Linked DNA regions of Homo sapiens: regions 2 and 3 are each linked to region 1. The links come from fine-mapping of genetic effects on gene expression. A gene starts in region 1. Each other region holds a variant in brackets. All regions are shown on one strand. Distances are between the middles of the regions. Region 1 holds the start of GTPBP4 (GTP binding protein 4). Region 2 overlaps GTPBP4 (GTP binding protein 4). Region 3 overlaps WDR37 (WD repeat domain 37).

What was found. PIP is the estimated chance that this variant, and not a neighbour inherited with it, causes the effect.
Region 2: its variant is the best candidate, but not a certain one, in a credible set for the expression of GTPBP4 in monocytes after interferon gamma (Fairfax 2014, PIP 0.70).
Region 3: its variant is the best candidate, but not a certain one, in a credible set for the expression of GTPBP4 in fibroblasts (GTEx, PIP 0.80).

The regions. Positions count from the first base shown.
Region 1 is chr10:984,525-991,092 of GRCh38, forward strand. It overlaps GTPBP4 (GTP binding protein 4), which reads left to right and starts at 3,910. Exons shown (of 17, transcript NM_012341.3): 1 at 3,910-4,003. The coding sequence starts at 3,956. It also overlaps a transcript of LARP4B not described here. RefSeq lists an enhancer at 5,657-6,552.
Region 2 is chr10:1,016,716-1,023,283 of GRCh38, forward strand. GTPBP4 (GTP binding protein 4) reads left to right here. Exons shown (of 17, transcript NM_012341.3): 17 at 360-3,217. The coding sequence ends at 512. It overlaps IDI2 (isopentenyl-diphosphate delta isomerase 2), which reads right to left. Exons shown (of 5, transcript NM_033261.3): 3 at 5,968-6,060; 4 at 4,052-4,182; 5 at 2,195-3,119. The coding sequence ends at 2,802. IDI2-AS1 (IDI2 antisense RNA 1) reads left to right here and starts at 5,922. Exons shown (of 5, transcript NR_027709.1): 1 at 5,922-6,068. The variant C/T (reference allele first, on the strand shown) is at 2,803.
Region 3 is chr10:1,107,225-1,113,792 of GRCh38, forward strand. All of the region lies in intron 11 of WDR37 (WD repeat domain 37), which reads left to right. Among named protein-coding and RNA genes, the nearest start is that of LINC00200, 49 kb to the right of the region's middle. RefSeq lists enhancers at 2,445-3,644, 2,962-3,544, 3,019-3,168, 3,545-4,125. The variant G/A (reference allele first, on the strand shown) is at 2,711.

The sequences.
Region 1 (6,568 bases):
TGAGCAAGGGCAGAAGTTCATTAGCACAGGTGCCTGTCATGATCCACGCACAGGAACGGAATTCTCACAGAAGAAACACAACCTGTCTGCATATGCAAACAGTGCTTTAGTGAAACACAGGTGCTGGGGGATTATTGACAGCATATGACCCCAAGTGCAATCCATCATGTACCTCCATTTAAATACCAAACAATTCATGACCAGCCTGGACAACATGGCGAAATCTCCCCTCTACTAAAAAATACAAAAAGTAGCCAGGTGTGGTGGCATGTACCTGTAGTCCCAGCTACTCGGGAGGCTGAGGCACTTAAATCTGAGAATTGCTTAAACCTGGGAGGTGGAGGTTGCAGTGAGCCAAGATCACACCATTGCACTCCAGCCTAGGCGACAGAGTGAGACCCTGTCTCATAAATAAATAAACAAACAAACAAATACCAAACAAGGTAATAACTCTACAGAGGTCAAGAACAAAGCCACTCTCGGCTGGCAGTGCAAAAGGAGAGTGGCTTTGGAGTTCCATGCGCCCTGAACGCACCTCATTGTGTCTCTCCAGCTGTGTGACGGTGAGCAAGCACTCAACCACCTCAAAGCCAGCACTCTTGTCTGTGAAACAGAGACAATCACACCCACCTCACTATGCTGTCCCGAGAAGAAAGCAAGTGACCTGGCACATGGTGGAGGCTCCCTGCATTGCAGTTGTTAAGGTTCAACGATAATTTAATGAATAGAACAAAAGTTTAGCAAATATTATTGTAACTAAGCAGCTAATAAGAACATAGATAATACATAATGCATAATTAATAATACACAATCTCTTTGCTCACTTATTAATGCCTGTAGAATAGGGTTAGTGAAAAGCTAAAATAATTCACATAAAGTATTTTTAACATGCCTGGTAGATAGTAAGTGAGCAAAGAGTGAAGAAACAGAGGCTTGGGGAAGCTGAGACATTTTCCCAGGATCACAGCGGGTGGAGCTGTATCTCAGAAATGAAGCTCACAGTCTTAACTCACTGTGTAATTCTGCAGAGAATGTCAGGCTGCACCTTTGGCCCGGAGGGTGGCTCTCATGCCATTGCTGCCTTCCACCTAAGGAGGTGTTTCCTTAGACCTCCCTGTTGACAGCTTTCCTCTTTATGGCACAGTGTGGAGTTCTGACCCACTTCAGGGTTGTGCAGAGGGGGTCTGACAGTACTGTAATTCAGTAGGACTACTTGAGTATTGCAGAAGCTTGATTCCAACCGCTACAGCCCCTACATCAGGAACTTACTCAAGCCAACATTCAATCAACGGAGTTCCACAGTCACTGTGAATGCTCTTGGCAGTGCTGCCTGAGGTGAGGGATGGCAAAAAAGTAAGACACAGTTCCTGTCCACGAAGAGCTGGCTACTTCTTTTGGAAACAAGATGTACACAAGGAAGCATCTAGGTACAAAGCAGCATGTGACTCGTTCTGAATGAGTTCCTGTGGGGATCCAGGGAAGTGGCCGACGGGCCCAATGGAGCACTCATAGGACCCTCTAAGACCGGATGCCTACTGATGGCTAATCCCCATGTAAAGGCTCCTTTCAGGCAGGAAGTTCAGTTCTGCAAAATGTACCTTTCATCCATCAGAATTACAGCAACGAGAAGGTAAAACAGAAAAGACCAAACCCACAAAATAAAAAGGTCTGAAAAACAAAGCTTTTTACTGAGAAGTGCCTCGCAGTCAGAAGCTTTGCAGAGTACCCTTGAGAGCATCCTTTACTACAGCTGAGAAGTACCTTTCTGTCACAAGGTACACACTCAGAGGCGTCCTGGCAGCTGGAACCTGCTAATGCAGTCAGGAACTGGCAATGTGCCTCGTACTGCAGGCAGCATTTGCGACACTCCTCAGAAAAGGCCTTTAGAGTTTGGCTTCCCCAGAGAAGCCCAGAAGTGTATGATAAAGAAGCTTGCTCCTAGTGGTGTAGAATACATACTTGCCCCCAAGAAGCTATACTCTGCCACAAAATCACAAGAACAGGCAAGGATGTTGATTCTCATCAACACGCACATGGTGTAAGATGCTTGGTACCTTATCATTGTTATAGCTCTGGGCCCATGATGAGTCATTATGGTTGTGCATTCACAGACATGCCTTTGTAGCTGAACAAGTTAAAAGCAGGTGGCTCATGCCTGTAATCTCTGCACTTTGGGAGGCCAAGGTGGGTGGATCACTTGAGGTCAGGGTTTGAGACCAGCCTGGCTAATATGGTAAAACCCTGTCTCTACTAAAAATACAAAATATTAGCCGGGAGTGGTGGCAGGTGCCTGTAATCCCAGCTACTTGGGAGGCTGAGGCAGGAGAATGGCTTGAACCCTGGAGGCGGAGGTTGCAGTGAGCTGAGATGGCGCCACTGCGCTCCAGCCTGCGCGACAGAGTGAGATTCCGTCTCAAAAAAAAAAAAAAAATTAAAGAAAGGATGTTTGCCCATCTGAAGCAAAGTATTGACTGGACTTATCTAAATACCGGATTACAAGAAAAAGAGGAACTGGCTATATCAGAGTGAGAGAAAGTGGGAGAGGTTGAGGAAACATACAAGAACCTAAAAGAAAGGGCAATAAGTATGAGCATAGCTTTGCTAATCTCGGAAATGGTGGCCAGAACTGTCCTGTGGTTTAGCAAATGATCATAGCCAGCAAATCCTAATTACCCTAGAAGCTTCCTTTAGAAGTGCCACAAAGATGTAGGAGGTATGCTTATCCGCCTTGTGACACAAAAATGGAAGCATAGTTAATAGATGAGAAAAGCATGACCCAGAATGATTTTCAATATTGGAATGCTGGGAATTTATGAGAGGTATTTTCGCGTAAGAATAATAGGACTTGTTTAAAAGGATTGGAGAGTGGGGGGCATCCCAGATGCGTGAGAAGCAGTATAGCTAATGGTTAGAAGCAGGTTTGCTGGAGCCAGGCTGCCTGGGTTCAAAGCCCACCTCTGCTGCCTGTTAGCTTGTCAGCTGCACAACCACGGGGTGCTTTCGAGCCTTGTGTGCCTTTGTTTCCCCATGCACTTCATGAGGCTGTTGCAGAAATTAAACGAGTTAATATATAGTCAGCAGCTCTGAACACTGCTTGACTGAGTCAGCCCTACCTAACGTTTAATTTAAGGGATGTGGCCCTGGGTTCCCAAAGGGAGCGGCCACTCTATTCACAAACATAAAAGCAGTAAAGGCTCCATCCTCATCAACCTTCTCCTCAGTTGGACCCCACAGGACTGTCTCTCGCAACTGTTCCCTGGGCTCTCCTAAGGCACTGCGCGGAACCAGCTGCACCTCTTTTGCCTTAGATCAGGCTTTCCCTTCTCCGCCCGTTTTGGGATTTAACAAGCACGAGAAAGCAGGGCTGCAGGGAAGCCGCGAGGGCCTCCTCACCACGGCCCGGGATCAAGTCCCACGCGCGAGGCCGGGGTAGGGGCGTCATCTGCTCCACACCCAGAGGCTGGGCACGCCCCGCACGCGCGGCTTCCTCCTCCTTTGCGGGGCTCGCCGCGACCCAGGACCCCCAGACTCCCGGATCCCCTAGACCCTCTGGACTCCTAAGCCCCGCAACTCCCAAATCCCAAGACCCCGGACCCTCCAACCCTGGCCCAGGGCGCGTGGCTGGGGGCCTGAACCCGCTCCAGAAACCCGCAGGGCAGTCTGTCGGAAACCCCCGCTTTACTCAGCAGGAATTTAGTCTCCGCGCTCCCCCTAAAACCCGGGCGTCCTCTCCTCTGTACCCTCGCTCCTGAGGCCCTCACACGCCCTCCGTGGCTGACCTCCAAGCCGGGCGGGTGCGCTGTGCGACGCGGAAAGCGCCGTAGAGCACGCAGAACACGATTGGCTGAGCTCCCGGAAGTGACGTACCTCAACCGCCCGACAGTGGAAGTCCCACCTGCGCCCGACGGCGGAAGTTCCGGGAGTGCCAAGTACCCGCGTGCATACGGCTGCCGGCATGGCACATTACAACTTCAAGAAAATTACGGTGGTGCCGTCCGCCAAGGTAGGCGGCCCCGGGAGGGCCACTGCAACTTTCGCGTTCTCCTCAGCTGGGTCCCCGGGGAGGGTCCGGGCCTGTAGCCGTGGGAGAGCGGTCGCCTTCCGCTCGCCCATCCCCCGCTCCTGGGCCTGACCGTCTGGCCGCGTACTCGGGATCATTTCCCCTCCCCCAGCAGAATCCGGGGTCCACCAGAGATCGGATCCCCCAGAGACCGGGGTCCACCTAAGACCGTGGTCCACCCAAAGACTGAGGGCCCCCAGAGATGGGGGTACACCCAGAGTTGGGTTCCCTGGAGGGGCCCCGGGTGACGATGTGGGCGAGTGGAGGGGGACCCCGACATGTGAGGGAGGAAGCGTTCCGTGGTCCGTGATGAGCCTTCGGATTCTGGGTTTGGCGTAGCCCCCTCCCCTCTCAGGAATCCTGGGTTCGTTGTTCTCGTGATTTAACGTTTCATAATTTTTAAGTCATTCTCTTTCACTGTTAGATTTGGGAATACCTGTTCCTTTTCAGACCATAGTAGGCCCAGACTAAATTTTTACAGCGTTGGTTGGTGTGGCAAGAATGAGTCAACAAGTGTTGAGTATTAGGACTTTTTTTTTTTTTTTTTTTTTTTGAGACATAGTTTTTCGCTCTTGTTTCCCAGGCTGGAGCGCAGTCTCGGCTCACTGCAACCTCCACCTCCCGCGTTCAAGCGATTCTCCTGCTTCAGCCTCCCGAGTAACAGGGATTACAGTCGTGCACCACCACACCCAGCTAATTTTCGTATTTTTAGTAGAGACGGGGTTTCACCACGTTGGCCAAGCTGGCCTCGAACTCCTGATCCCGGGTGATCCTCCCGCCCCGGCCTCCCAAAGTGCTGGAATTACAGGCGTGAGCCACTGCGCCCGGCCCTAGTATTAGGACTTTTAAGAAGTCACGTTTTTATGTAGTGAACATTCGATTTGGGTCGCAATTACACAGACATTGACGGGCAACTGGAGCCTCCCAGGGACTCCTGCACGAGAGGGAGTTACTGAAGTCCCTGCAGAGTGACTGTTTTCCCCTCGTCAGTGCCTCCTTTTCTTCAGGTCTCAAGGACGGGATGAGCTTGCCTTGGAAAGCTTTGTGGGAGTCTCGTATTTTACCTTCATAGCAAAAGTTGTTTCCCCACTTCTCTCCACCATTTCTTATTTCTTCCTGACAGTTGTTCTGGCACATCTCTTGATCGATTGTAGTATTTTCTTTCTTTCTTTTTGAGATGGAGTCTCGCTCTGTTGGCCAGGTTGGAGCGCAGTGGTGTGATCCTGACTGCAGCCACCGCCTCCCAGGTTCAAGTGATTTTCCTGCCTCAGCCTCCCGAGTAGCTGGGACTACAGGCATGCGCCACCAGGCCTGGCTAATTTTTGTATTTTCAGTAGAAGTGGAGTTTCACCATGTTGGCCAGACTGGTCTTGAACTCCTAATCTCAAGTGATTCACTTGCCTCAGCCTCCCAAAGTGTTAGGATTACAGGCATGAGCTACTGTGCCCAGCCAGATTGTAGTATTTTCGAGTGCAGGAGTCATGTCTTATTTGTATTTTTGGTCAACCATCTCTCAGGTTTGTTGAAGGAATTTGCTCTTTGGATTATATGAACTTTGTTCATGTTATTGACTTATGTGGAGAACTTTAGAATATATTATACACCATCCGTCTTCTGTTCTGTGGAGTGAGATTTATATTTTTAGAGAACAGATGACTTATCTAAAAACTGGGTGATGGTAATTGTTTGGTGATTGGAAGTAAAAAAAAAAAATCACATCGGGAAAGTGTGGTATTCAGTTCATTCTAGAAGATGTTGAGTGAGTGCCTGTCCTGTGCATCGGGTACTGTGTTACAAAAATGCATTAGATAAAATACCTGCCTCTTTGGAAGTCATTTTCAAGAGAGGTAAGTCGAGGCCGGGTGCGGTGGCTCTCGCCTGTAATCCCAGCACTTTGGGAGGCTGAGGCGGGCAAATCACGAGGTCAGGAGATCGAGACCATCCTGGCTAACACGGTGAAACCCCGTCTCTACTAAAAATACAGAAAAATTAGCCAGGCGTGGTGGCGGGCGCCTGTAGTCCCAGCTGCTGGGGAGGCTGAGGCAGGAGAATGGTGTGAACTGAACCCAGGAGGCAGAGCTTGCAGTGAACCGAGATCGCGCCACTGCACTCCAGCCTGGGCAACAGAGCAAGACTCCATCTCAAAAAAAAAAAAAAAAAAAAGTGGGGTAAGTCATATCTCGTATGACCATACTAGAAATAAAACATTGTTATCATGGAGGACACACATGGATTGGGAGAGGAGAAGAGTGTGGTTAGCTGTGGTAAGTTGGAGAGTCAGGGGGAACCTTATGAAGTAGGTAACCTTTGACTTGGTCCCCCTTCAGGATGTGCGAACGGCATTAGGTGCAGAAGAACGTAGAGAAGATCTTGTGTGGGCCCAGAGGGGAGACCGTGTGTGCCCCTCATAGTACTTGGCAGACTGTTGTGACCACCCGTTTACTTGTCTCACTTGTAGGCCCAGAGGGGAGACAGTGTGTGCCCCTTATAGTACTTGGCAGACTGTTG
Region 2 (6,568 bases), 32 kb after region 1:
TTCATCCAGTCTTTATACAAAAATACTCATTGAGTTCCTGCAGATAACTGTGCTGGGCTTAAGAGAAAAGAGATGTAACAGGGATAACTGTGCTGGGCTTAAGAGAAAAGAGATGTAACAGGGGTAACTGTGCTGGGCTTAAGAGAAAAGAGATGTAACAGGGGTAACTGTGCTGGGCTTAAGAGAAAAGAGATGTAACAGGGATAACTGTGCTGGGCTTAAGAGAAAAGAGATGTAACAGGGTCTCTTCGCTGAGCAGACCTGAGCCATTAAACAGATTGTTACCCAGTAGTTGAAATTCAGAATGGAAAATTGGTTTTAAGTAATGAACATACTTTATTTTTTTCTCCTCCTTTTAGATGGTGAAGAAAGCCAAGACTATGATGAAGAATGCTCAGAAGAAGATGAATCGGTTGGGGAAGAAAGGGGAGGCGGATAGACACGTGTTTGATATGAAGCCCAAGCACTTGCTGTCTGGGAAGAGGAAAGCTGGTAAAAAGGACAGGAGATAGTATCCGTTTGGTTGGCGTGGCTTCGCTAGAGTGTTGCTGTTTATTTCCTGGTTTGGCACAGTATGGTTTCATGAAATTGGAGCTCTGTATAAACTGAAAAAGACAAAATAAGTAAAGCACTTGTTGCTTTGCTGAAAACTATGGTTAACCCTATATAGGTGTGGGAAATTTTTGTCACTGCATAATATTACAAATATTTTGAGTAGACAGTGTTTCCACATTTAATGGAGTATCAGTTGCTTCAGATTTTCAGAACTGGGAAGATTTACTGGTTTAACTAGGTTGTTTTTGATGGAGAAAAACCTTATTTTCTTTTGTAAGAGCTGGGAGCAAACACGTTTATGAGTGTGTCGGAATCCCGTGCTTAAAATACGCTCTTAAATTATTTTCTAGTCTTATTTTACAATGTCTCATTGTAGTCTGTCTTCAACTATTTTATCCAAAATAAACCTCCAGAAGAAAGTAGTTTTCATTTACTTAGCTCATGTTTTGGTTTAGTTATAGTCGCTATGGATTTGGCCAAATAAAAAGGCAAACAACATGACATTTCTATTTTGTTTTAAAGCAAAAATACTTTTGGGGGAGTAAAATGTTGCTGGAGGCATTAGGCAATTAAATATGGGCATTCTCCTATTTCTGTGGCCCGTCCCTGAAGTTACATGTTCAGTAAAACACAAAAACACCGCCAATGCCACCTCAAAAGCACCTGCTGGGGAGCGTTGGGGTGAAGAGCTGTGGGGTCGGAGGGACCTGCCCAGGGGTCCGTGTGCTCCTGGAGCTCCAAAGACACACAGGGGTCCAAGAGCCACCACGGATAAGTTATCAAGTCACACAATCAACATTATAGCTGAGGAAAGGACTTTAGTTAATCACACTTCTGGATTACATGTGGCAATTTTAAAAATTTACCAGGGCTGGGCTGGGCGCAGGGGCTCAAGCCTGTAGTTCCAGCACTTTGGGAGGCCGAGGTGGGCAGATCAGGAGGTCAGGAGTTCGAGACCAGCCTGGCCAACATGGTGAAACCCCATCTCTACTAAAAATACAAAAATTAGCCATGCGTGGTGGTGGGCATCTGTAATCCTAGCTGCTCGGGAGGCTAAGGCAGGAGAATTGCTTGAGCCCAGAGGCGGAGGTTGCAGTGAGCCGAGATCGTGCCACTGCACTCCAGCCTGGGTGACAGAGAGAGACTCCGTGTGAAAAAAAAAAAAAAAATACCAGGTCTGGTTTTTGAAATTCTTTCTCCGTATTAAACACCAAAACTTAACATATAGTTTACTTTGTGTTAAACAACAACAGTATGGCCGGGCGCGGCAGCTCATGCCTGTAATCCCAGCACTTTGGGAGGCCGAGGCAGGCGGATCACGAGGTCAGGAGATCGAGACCATCCTGGCTAACACGGTGAAACCCCGTCTCTACTAAAAATACAAAAAATTAGCTGGGTGTGGTGGCGGGCGCCTGTAGTCCCAACTACTTGGGAGGCTGAGGCAGGAGAATGGCTTGAACCCGGGAGGCGGAGCTTGCAGTGAGCCAAGATCGCACCACTGCACTCCAGCCTGGTCGACAGCGAGACTCCATCTCAAAAAAAAAAAAAAAATACCAGGTCTGGTTTTTGAAATTCTTTCTCCGTATTAAACACCAAAACTTAACATATAGTTTACTTTGTGTTAAACAACAACAGTATGTTTTAAAGCAAGTATGTCTTTATTTGTAAGCATATTACTGAAACGATCAAATGAACAGAAGTGGATAAACGTCGAGTCACTTGGCTGAGACCATACGCATCTTCCGTACTGCTTGTATTAGGATGCAAGATTGAATGTGTCTTTTTTTTAAAAATGCAGCCTTGTGTTGCACTCTGAAATAAGTGATTTAAAAAGAAAAACATGATACAGAGATCCCATCCTGACCTTGGAGGCTTGGATAAAGCTGTGGGGAGACAGCCTCATGGTCCAGCCAGGCTAGTCCGCCTGCTTCAGGACTCTCAAGATCTCCCCAAGACTTTCAGGATCAGCTGCTGTTAATCAAACAAGTGCTTATAAAATGGAAATTGGGACAAAGGAAATGTTAAATTTCCTCCCTGCAACCAGGCAGATGAGAAATATGGAAATAAGGAAAAGGGAAAATGAAGATATGACAAAGTTGATGAAAAGGTTGAAATAGTGATTTATACATGATGGGCAATCAAGTGCCCCTTTTGCCCTGTTTTTTGGAGAGGGTGTATCATTGCCTCAATGGTGCGTCTGCCTGCACTGAGGGCATTACACATGGCTGACTCGACCTCCCTGCCTCT[C/T]ACACTCTGTGTATTTTGTGAAGCTCCACAAACGGGGTCACGTCATCCAGGTGAGGCCACCACCGGTACAGAAACCTCTCGGCAATGGTTCTTAGCCAGGGGGTGACTTTGACTTCACCCCTCGCCTCCCTCTCCAGCAGCTCCCACAGCTCCTCCTGGGACAGGTAGAGGATGCTTTTCGTTTCACTGGGATCCGGGTTCAGAGTGACGTTTTTCCTCACAAGCAGAAGGTAACAAATTTCATGCTCTCCCCAAATTCTGTCTGATTTTGCCTTGTGGTGATAGATTGTCATGAACACAATGTCCTCTGGAGAAATCTATTGACAGAAATTGGTGCAGTGTTAACAACGCTAATGTAAAACACAGAATTTACAGAAAAATAGAGAAAATAAACACATTTGTTTTCCTCAGAAAATGAACACTTTCTTTGGTAATTGATAATTTCCAAAACCTCGATTTTAGCTAAGTAAATTTTTGTGGACTCAAGTCTGAATGATAAACCGGCTTTGGTTTCTTGGTTCCAGTAAACCTGTCTGTCTTCATTTAAAGAACTAACCGTGTCACACACACATCCTCAACAGAAAACCCCGTAGAAACCGGCTAGCGTTGTCAGGAGAACATCCATCCTCTCTTAAACGTGTTCTTGAGTGGATGAAGGTAACACATGCTCACAGGATCCTGGACATTCTTTCTACACTTGAATTTCTTTCTTTTTTTTTTTTTTGAGATGGAGTCTCGCTCTGTCGCCAGGCTGGAGTGCAGTGGCACAATCCCGGCTCACTGCAACCTCTGACTCCCAAGTAGCTGGGATTACAGGCGTGTGCCACTACGCCCAGCTAATTTTTGTACTTTTAATAGAGACGGGGTTTCACCATGTTGGCCAGGATGGTCTTGATTTCTTGACCTTGTGATCCGCCCGCCTCGGCCTCCCAAAGTGATGGGATTACAGGCGTGAGCCACCACGCCCGGCTTGAATTTCCTCTTCGGTGTGTGGTCGACAGATTCCTGCACAGTCTCAACCCTGCCTGGGACACATAGGGACTCACACTGCCCCATCCACAGCTACATTCACAGCCCCATTCACAGCCCCATTCACAGCTCATTCACAGCCCCATCCACAGCCCCATCCTTCATCCTCATGGTGCTTCATGAGGTCAATGGTGTAGATCCAGCCTGGACTTTGTTCACCGTCTGCCCGCTGCCAACCTGGACTCCCGTGGACACAGCTGAGACTGGATGCTGTGTGTACCTGCTCCCCAGGAATTCCCAGCTCTGCTTGCAGACGCCTCTGGGCTGCCCTCCTCACTCCGATGGCATCCTTTTCTTCCAGTTCTGCTGGGTTGTATAATGGGTGGCTACTACAGGAGTCGGTAAAATACCCTGGAAAAAATGCATGTGGGAACATCCCTCTTTATTCCTGAAAAGTGAATATATTAAATACAAATGCAGATGCTTCATGTAAAACCATCATCCGTCATCAGCAGAAGACAGCCTGGCGGGGGGAGTGGGTTTGTCATGGGCTCTCAGAGCAGCACTCGCCTCCAGCCTCCACGGCTGTGGGCTTGGTGAGGGTCTTCCACATGACCACCTGGCGGGGCTGGCCCTGACCGCTCCTGCGGCCCTTCCTGCAGATGTGCACACACATGTCCCGTGGCACTATCCCAGTATGTCTTAGGAGAGGGACTGGTTCCTACTCAGTTTTGTACCCACAGAGGACCTGAGATGCCATGGGGTGGCGGGAGGAGGTGGTGGGGCTGTGGGCTGGGTGGCTGCACCAGCTGGGCTGAGGAAGCTGGGCTGCACTTTGAGGGTGGTGATCAGTGAGCATGGTTTCACAGGAAGACTGCTGGAATACCTTTGACCAAGTTTCCTTACTGAGAGGTTCTACTTAATTTACCCAAGTAACAGCAATAGCGCTATGACGGGAGGTCACACTCTCCTCAGTAAATCTCTGTTCCCTCTCGTTCCTCAGACCCTCAGTGCTTCCTTCGGTCACTCTGCAAGGAGTTTGGCTGAAGTTGAATCCACTCTTGCAAGTACAAGAGCTGGTACTCCCACCTGCCCCTATGTATCCTGGAGGCGGCTAACACATGATAGGAAATCTTAGCTCCAGGGGCTTTATTTGCAAACTGTTGACTATGTACTACAGTTGACCCTCTTAACTTTGCAGCTCCTGAATTTTTCTGAAACAAACTTTGCATTCAGCTCCATCAAGGAGCCCGTGAGTACAACTTGACCAGCAAGTATGGTGGTGGGTTTGGGAATGGGCAGGATGTACCCACTGCGGCTCCGAGGAAGAACTAAGGGAGGAGAAAACCTCGGCCACAGCTGGCCGTGCTTAGCCATTCGCTTTAATGGCTCAGGCAAGGTCTGGTTTTGAAAATTTGAGGACAGCCTAGGCCAAAACACTTTAAATGACCACAATTGACGTAAATGCTGTTCCCCTCTAAAAAATTTTTTGGCCGGGCCCGGTGGCTCACGCCTATAATCCCAGCACTTTGGAAGGCCAAGACAGGCATATCACGAGGTCAGGAGATCGAGACCATCCTGGCTAACACGGTGAAACCCCGTCTCTACTAAAAATACAAAACGTTACCCGGGTGTGGTGGCGGGCGCCTGTAGTCCCAGCTACTTGGGAGGCTGAGGCAGGACAATGGCGTGAACCCAGGAGGCGGGGCTTGCAGTGAGCCGAGATGGCGCCACTGCACTCCAGCCTGGGTGACTGAGCCAGACTCCATCTCCAAAAAAAAAAAAAAATTTTAAGTTGTAATTTTAAGAAGTACAAGATAATTAAAACTCTAAGACCTGTAAGATAATTTTTATTATTATTACCTAGTTAATTTTATGCTAAATGCTATTTTAATCCCCTAAATCCTTAGGTTGATAAATTCCTCTGCATTTAAGTAACTTGCCGTTGCAAAGAAACAACAAAACAAAAAAACCCAGAAACTCATATAGTTTCTTACTTTTTTAAAAAAGAAAACCCAGCCTACTGAAGAGCTATCAGCATAATTAGCATCTGCCTAAGCTGCCGATTTTCTGCAGGATGAGCTGCCAGCTCACCACAGTGCGGCACTGAGCACCAGAGAGTTCCTGTCCCAGATTCCTCCGGTCAAGTCACATGAGATGCTCTCTTCAGTCCGGGGCTTGGTTGAACGGACTCACCAGGAAACGTGACTTTCGTGTCCGACCTCTGCTGTATCAGGATTCGATTCTTGGTGTTAAACAAGACAACGCTGAAGGCTCGGTGCAGCAGCCCTGCAAAGGTAAGTGCCATTTGTGTGAGTGCATGCCTGGAGTCTGTACGATTGTCCTTCGTGCTTTTTGTCCTCAGTCTGTTTCTCGTAGAAAAGCCTGTGATTGTGGCACCTGGGCAGGGCAAAGGGGACTGCTGGATGCCCAAACACAACGTTTCAGAATCTCAGCGGATTAGAACACTCGGGAAACTAAAAATAGATCTACCAGATGACCCAGAAATCCCACTACCAGGGCAAATATCCAAAATAAAAGAGATCAGTCTATCAGAGAGATATCGCAGCATTCCTGGGTGCTGAGCACCATTTACGACAGCCAAGATATGAGATCAACCTGTGTCCGTGGAGGTTTGAAGGGTTGAAAACATGAGGGTTAGATACACAGTGGCATACCATTCCACCACAAAAGAAGAATGAAATCGGGCCGGGTGCGGTGGCTCACGCCTGTAATCTCAGCACTTTGGGAGGCTGAAGTGGGCGGATCACGAGGTCAGAAGATCGAGACCACCCTG
Region 3 (6,568 bases), 120 kb after region 1:
CGACGTCCACCAGATGCAGAGGGGCCCCACAGCAAAGCCCTGGCTGGACCTGGGCCCACCACCTGGCACCACTGTGTAGGGCGGGGCAGAGGGGCCCGCATGACTGCCCTGCTGTTTCTCATGAGAATTCATTGGAAGGGCAGTCGGAGGCCTAGAGGACGGGAGGAGCAAGATGGTCTCACTCCTGCGCCTGCAGTGCTTTCCTAAGCTTTTTGCTTAGAAAAGTTTCAAGCCTACATAAAAACCAACAGAGTAGTACAGTGTACCCACAAACCCTTCACCTAGGTTCGCCTGTTGTATTGCAGCACTGCTGTCTCTTTACACATGTGTACACACCTCTCTCTGAAACACACGCCCACTAACCCTTCACCTAGGTTCACCTGTTGTATTGCAGCACCGCTGTCTCTTTACACATGTGTACACACCTCTCTCTGAAACACACGCCCACTAACCCTTCACCTAGGTTCACCTGTTGTATTGCGGCACTGCTGTCTCTCTTTACACATGTGTACACACCACTGTCTGTAACACACAACACGCACTACCCTGTCACCTAGGTTCGCCTGTTGTATTGCAGCACTGCTGTCTCTCTTTACACATGTGTACACGCCTCTCTCTGAAACACACGCCCACTTCCCCTTCACCTAGGTTTGCCTGTTGTTGTATTGCAGCACTGCTGTCTCTATTTACACATGTGTACACACCTGTCTGTAACAGACACGCCCACTTATCCTTCACCTAGGTTCACCTGTTGTTGTATTGCAGCACTGCTGTCTCTGTAGATGTGTACACACCTCTGTCTATAACACACACTTGTATATTTTCTTTGGCTGAGCCCTTTGAAAGGAAAACTCCAGCATGCATTTTCTAAGAATAAGGATGTTCTCCTAATACAGTACCATTGTTCAAATAAGAAAATTAGTAAAAATTCTATGGCATCCTTTATCTGGTCCACATTTAAATTTACTCAGTTCTCCCCAAAATGTCTTTGATACTTTTTTTAGAGCTAGGATTTAATCAGGATTCTCTCATCACATTTAGATATTATGTCCTTTGGCTTCTTTTAATCTAGAATGGTCCTTCCCCCATTTTTTGTTACTTTTTAGGATATTGAGTTTTTTGGTGAAGAATCCAAGCCTGCTCTTTTGCAGAACGCCCCTCATTCTGCATTTTTCTTATGACTTCCTTTAAGTGCCCCTCTGCTGTGCTATTGGTGTGCTGAAGCGCTCCTGCAGTTAAGATGGCGTCTGCAGGTCTGCCTGCCAGAGGTGCTCTCCTGTTTCAAATAGCGAAGCGACACTATTCTATGGATGTTAATTCCCCAGTGACCTTTCCTCGGTCCAGGGCTTCAGCTCATTGTTACGCTGAGTCCTGCAGAAGGGGATCTTTGTACTTCTGTCTACACTGGTTAGTTGGCACTGTGTTTTTTGAGTATTAGCGAGCATAGACACCTGCACTTTGTTGGTGTTGGTGGTTGTGATCCCTGTGGTTGCTTTGGTTTTGGCTTCTGTGATGCCCCCCCCCCCCGTGGAACCTGCAGGGCCCTGAGTGCCACCATCCTGGCACAGCTCCCTGCCCCAGGCTGGGAAGACCCAGCAGCTCTCACTGCATTGACTCTGGTCATCTGTATGGAGCACAAAAATCTGTCAGAGCTTTGAGAATTGGGTGAAGAGGGTAGTTTTGTGTCTAGAGAGCAGGGCAGCTTCCTATGTGCTTCTGATATGGGGGTTGCAGGGATAGGCCAGTGTGCCCTGCTGTGCCTGTCCCCTTTGAGGGCAGGATGGAAAGGCCGAAGAATTCTGTCCAGAGGAGGACGCAGTGGAGCCAGGGCTTGGTGAGTTGCTGGTTTGTGCCAGGCACTGTTGGAGCCCCTGGCATCACCCCAGTTCAGAGAGAGAAACTGAGGCATGAGGAGGCCAGGTGGTTTGCTGAGGGTTTGGCTCTAGGGGGTCATTCCAGAGCAGTCCCTCCTGGTGCCTTCAAGGTGCCTCTTGTGTTATTTAAGACCCTTCTAGTCCTGTATTGTCTCTGTTCAGTTGCCATATTTAACTGGAAGATTTTATTTTTGTTTTGTGTAAAAAGAAAAGTTTTTGTATTTATATCACCAGAGTTGATTGCAAGTGCATGTTTTCGCTTCTAAGGCTGTTGCAACCGTGTGGTCTTGGCCATTTGACTGTGAAGTGAAGTCAGTGCTGGTGGCATCTTTAAAATATCTGCTTAGGCTGGGCGCGGTGGCTCACGCCTGTAATCCCAGCACTTTGGGGATCACCTGAGGCTGGGAGTTTGAGACCAGCTTGACCAACATGGAGAAACTCTGTCTTTACTAAAAATACAAAATTAGCCAGGTGTGGTGGCGCACGCCTGTAATCCCAGCTACTTGGGAGGCTGAGGCAGGAGAATCGCTTGAACTTGGGAGGTGGAGGTTGCGGTGAGCCGAGATCACGCCGTTGCACTCCAGCCTGGGCAATGAGCGAAACTCCAAACTCCGTCTCAGAAAAAAAAAAATTCTGGTTAATTTGTGGTACATTTTTGCAGCTAGTGGATACATGAAACAATGGTAGTTTTTTAGAGAGCTGTACTTATGAAGAATGTAGTAAGTGTTATGAAAAAGTTCTTACTAATGTGGACCTATGAATACAGTTTCCTAGGGTTTATGTCTTCCTATTGGAATCAGGTGTGGGGGTAGAGTAAGGTGGAGTGTGTAATTCCC[G/A]TGTGCCCTTTCTCCCACATGGGTCTTCCAGGCTGTAGGCTGTGCTTCCATTCACCTGAACCACGGGGGTGAGGTGAACGTGGACCAGACCTGCCCGGGCCATGCTTACTCAGATCGTTTACGCTTTCTTTTTTCTTACTCAAATTATCATGAACTAGCGTATCTTGTTGATGTGTACATCCAAAAATACGTTTTGAAAAGATCTCTCTTTGGCGCTAATTTTGTTGCTGTGTCGGGGCGAGTCCGCTGGGCTGTTGGACATTGAGCTTCCCCTCACCGGCCTGGCGGTTTCTCAGCTGTGCGCATGCAGGATGAGGGCTTGGTCAGCAGGTGGAGCCGTGGACGCCTTTATTGAACACAAACTCTTCCTTCCTGACATCAGATCAGCTGTAAACCTTTAGACGTGCCTCATAATGAGAAAAGCAGGAAATGAGTCATTTTACAAAAATGTTTCATCTGAGGTGTCTTCTTAGTAACACTTGCCTTTGTCTCCGGCATGGGTTTTGTAGGTTCGAGCCAATACGACAAATAAAACCTACAGAGTGCGTGATCCTTACAAATGTGTAGAGCTGTGCATCCGCGCCACAGCACACCAGGGTGAGGGCCTCGCAGTGCGGTTTAGGTCCTGAGATGTGCGTCCGCGCCCCAGCACACCTGGGTGAGGTCCGGGGTGCGGGTTTAGTTCCTGAGAGGAATGGCCAGGTTGTGTGTGTGTGTTCCGTTTGGTCACTTGTCTGGGACGTTCTGAACATGACTTGTAAGAGCACACCCTGGGTCCCCTGCCTTCCCTGCCACCATGTCATTCTGAGGGACCCTCTGCGCCGGGGGCTTCTCTGCAGTGGCCACGGCATCGCCAAGGACATCCGTGAGCCTCCGATGGGTGTCCAGCGTGTTAGCGCCCAGACCCACAGGGCCTGGCACCCTGATAGGTGGGAATGTTGGCCCAGGGCCGGGCCTGAGGCCTGCAGGACTGCCTGCTCATCCGGGAAGTAGCTCTGCCGGTTTTACAGGGTGATCCTGAGTTCTTTTCACTAGTTCTTTTCCTGAGCATTGAAAGCAAAAGTCAGACATGTGTTCTTAGGAAGTTTGCTGTTCTTGTTGATGTAGGCTGGAAAGTTATATGCATGGTGTTTTTAGTGATACCCCTTAAACAGAGGCAGTATTTCTTCAACATGTGTGACTAAAAATACCCTTTCTCACATAATTTATATTAACATGATGTGGAATGTGCTTTTCAAAGTTTTATCTTAGGGCGTATTTTCACTTGTAGGAACTAAGCGTAAATTCTTTAGTATAGTATGTTGGAATCTAATGTCTTTTATAATGTAAATAATTAACTGTCTAGTTAAGGTGAATTGCTGTATATTGGGTTTTCTTAAGGCAAGAAGTAGCTCTAAAGGCTTAAGGTAACTGGCCCAGTTTTGTGATCCAGTTTCCAGGAGAGATTTTTCCCCACTTTCTTTTTTTTCTTACTGTAATCCCCATACTTTTACTTGCATTCTGTGCCTTTTTGAAAGACTGGAGTTTGAGTTCCAATGCTTCACTGTAAGAAAGAAAAGTGTAGCGAAATGGGTCCCCTGAAACGTGTGGTCATTACCTTTGCTGGATGGGGATGGAGCTCCGTGCTGTGAGCTGCTGAAGGCTTTGATCCTACGTGTTTAGAAGGACCAGTCACCTTTTCCTTTTGATGTGTCTTATTTCTTTCCACTCTGTGTTGTGGCATCTCTGTATTATAGCAGGAATTTTACCATGATAGTACTTAGTTGGCGTAACTGTGTGGCTGTTTTTATTTGACTGTTTGTTAGTGACCCAGCGTGTACTGATTTATATGAAAAGCAATTTTAGATACTTCATATAGCAGAAATGTGAAGTTGTAGTATGTGTTGTTATTAGAAATAATAAAAAGGCTTAATTTGAAAATTTCAGTGTGTCACAGGAATTCAGCTGTTGGTGGCTATTTCTCTCTCTCTCTTTTTTTTTTTTGTGAGACGGAGTCTCGCTCTGTTGCCCAGGCTGGAGTGCAGTGGTGCAATCTCGGCTCACTGCAACCTCCACCTCCTGGGTTCAAGCGATTCCCCTGCCTCAGCCTCCCAAGTAGCTGGGACTGCAGGCACGTGCCTTGGTGGCTATTTCTTACACCTTGTTTGATTGCACTCCGTAGATTGATGTTTTTTGCAAATGAAGGTCTGTGGAGCCCAGCCCTGGCTGAGCAGGTCTGTTGGTGCCAGTTTTCCAACAGCACGTGCTCACTTCCTGCCTCTCTCTCACATTTTGGTCATTCTCACAATACTTCTTACTTTTTCATTGTGATTATATGAGGGTGGTCAGTGACTTTTGCTGTAACTGTTATAATTGGTTTTGAGGCCCTGGGAACCTTGCCCATAGAAGACAGTGAACTTAGTCGATAAATCGTGTGTGTTCCGACTGCCCCACTAACTGGCCGTTCCTTCGTCTCTCACCTTCTCCTAATGCCTCTGACTTCATGAGTGAGACACAACACTGTTGAAATTAGGCCAATTAACATCCCTATAGCAGCCTCTCAGTGTTGAAATGAAGAGTTGCGTGTCCCTCACTTGAAAGCTGGAAATGACGAAGCTTAGTGAGGAAGATGTGTCGAAGGCAGAGAGGCTGAAAGCTGGGCATCCTGCACTGGACAGCCAGGTTCTGAATGCAAAGGAAAAGTTCTGGAAGGAAAGTAAAACTGCTACTCCAGTGAACACACGAATGATAAGAACACAATCCTAATGCTGATATGAAGGAACTTTGAGTGGTCTGCATTGATTAAACCAGCCACAACATTCCCTTTAGCCAAAGCCTAATCCAGAGCAGGGCCCTGACTCTTCAATTCTGTGAGGGCTTAGAAAGGTGAGGGAGCTGCGGAAGAAAAGCTGGAAGCTGGCAGAGGTTGGTTTATGAGGTTTAAGGAAGGAAGCCGTCTCCATAACATGAGAGTGCAAGGTGAAGCAGCAAGTGCTGATGGAGAAGCTGCAGCAAGTTCTCCAGAAGATCCAGCTGGGATCATCGATGAAGATGACTATGTTTAATAACAGATTTTCAGTGTAGACAAAACAGCCTTCTGTTAAAGAAGATGCCACGTAGAACTTTCCTAGCTAGAGAAGAGAAGTCACTGCCTGGCTTCGAAGGACAGACTGATGCTCTTGTGAGGGGCTAGTACAGCTGGTGACTTACAGTTGAAGCCAGTGCTCATTTACCATTCTGAAAATCCTAGGGCCCTTAAGAATTATGTGAAACCTACTCTGCCTGTGCTCTATAAATGGATCACCAAAGGCTGGATGAGAGCACATCTGTTTACACCATGGTTTCTGAATATTTTGAGCCTATTGTTGAGGCTACTGCTCAGGAAAAAACTTTTTTTTCAAAATTGTCCTGCTTATTGACAGTGCACCTAAGGGCTCTGACGGAGATGTACAAGGAGATGAATGGTGTTTTCATGCCTGGTAACACAACCCCCATTCTGCAGCCCATGGTTCAAGGAGTCATTTTGACTTTTGAGTCTTATTATTTAAAAAATACACTTTGTAAGGCTATAGCTGCCATAGATAGTGATTCCTCTGATGGACCTTGGCAACGTCAATTGAGCACCTTCTGGAAAGGATTTATCATTCTGGTCGCCATTCAGAACACTTGTGATTCATGGGAGAAGGTCAAAATGTCACAGGAATTTGAGAGACGTTGAGGGGTTCAAGGCTTCAATGGAGAAAGTCACTGCAGGTGTGGTGGAAACAGGAAGATAACTAGGATTAGAAGTGGATCCTGAAGATGGGACTGAATTGCTACAATCTCACAATAAATTTGAATGGACGAGGAACTGCTTCTTATGGATGAGCAAAGAAAGTG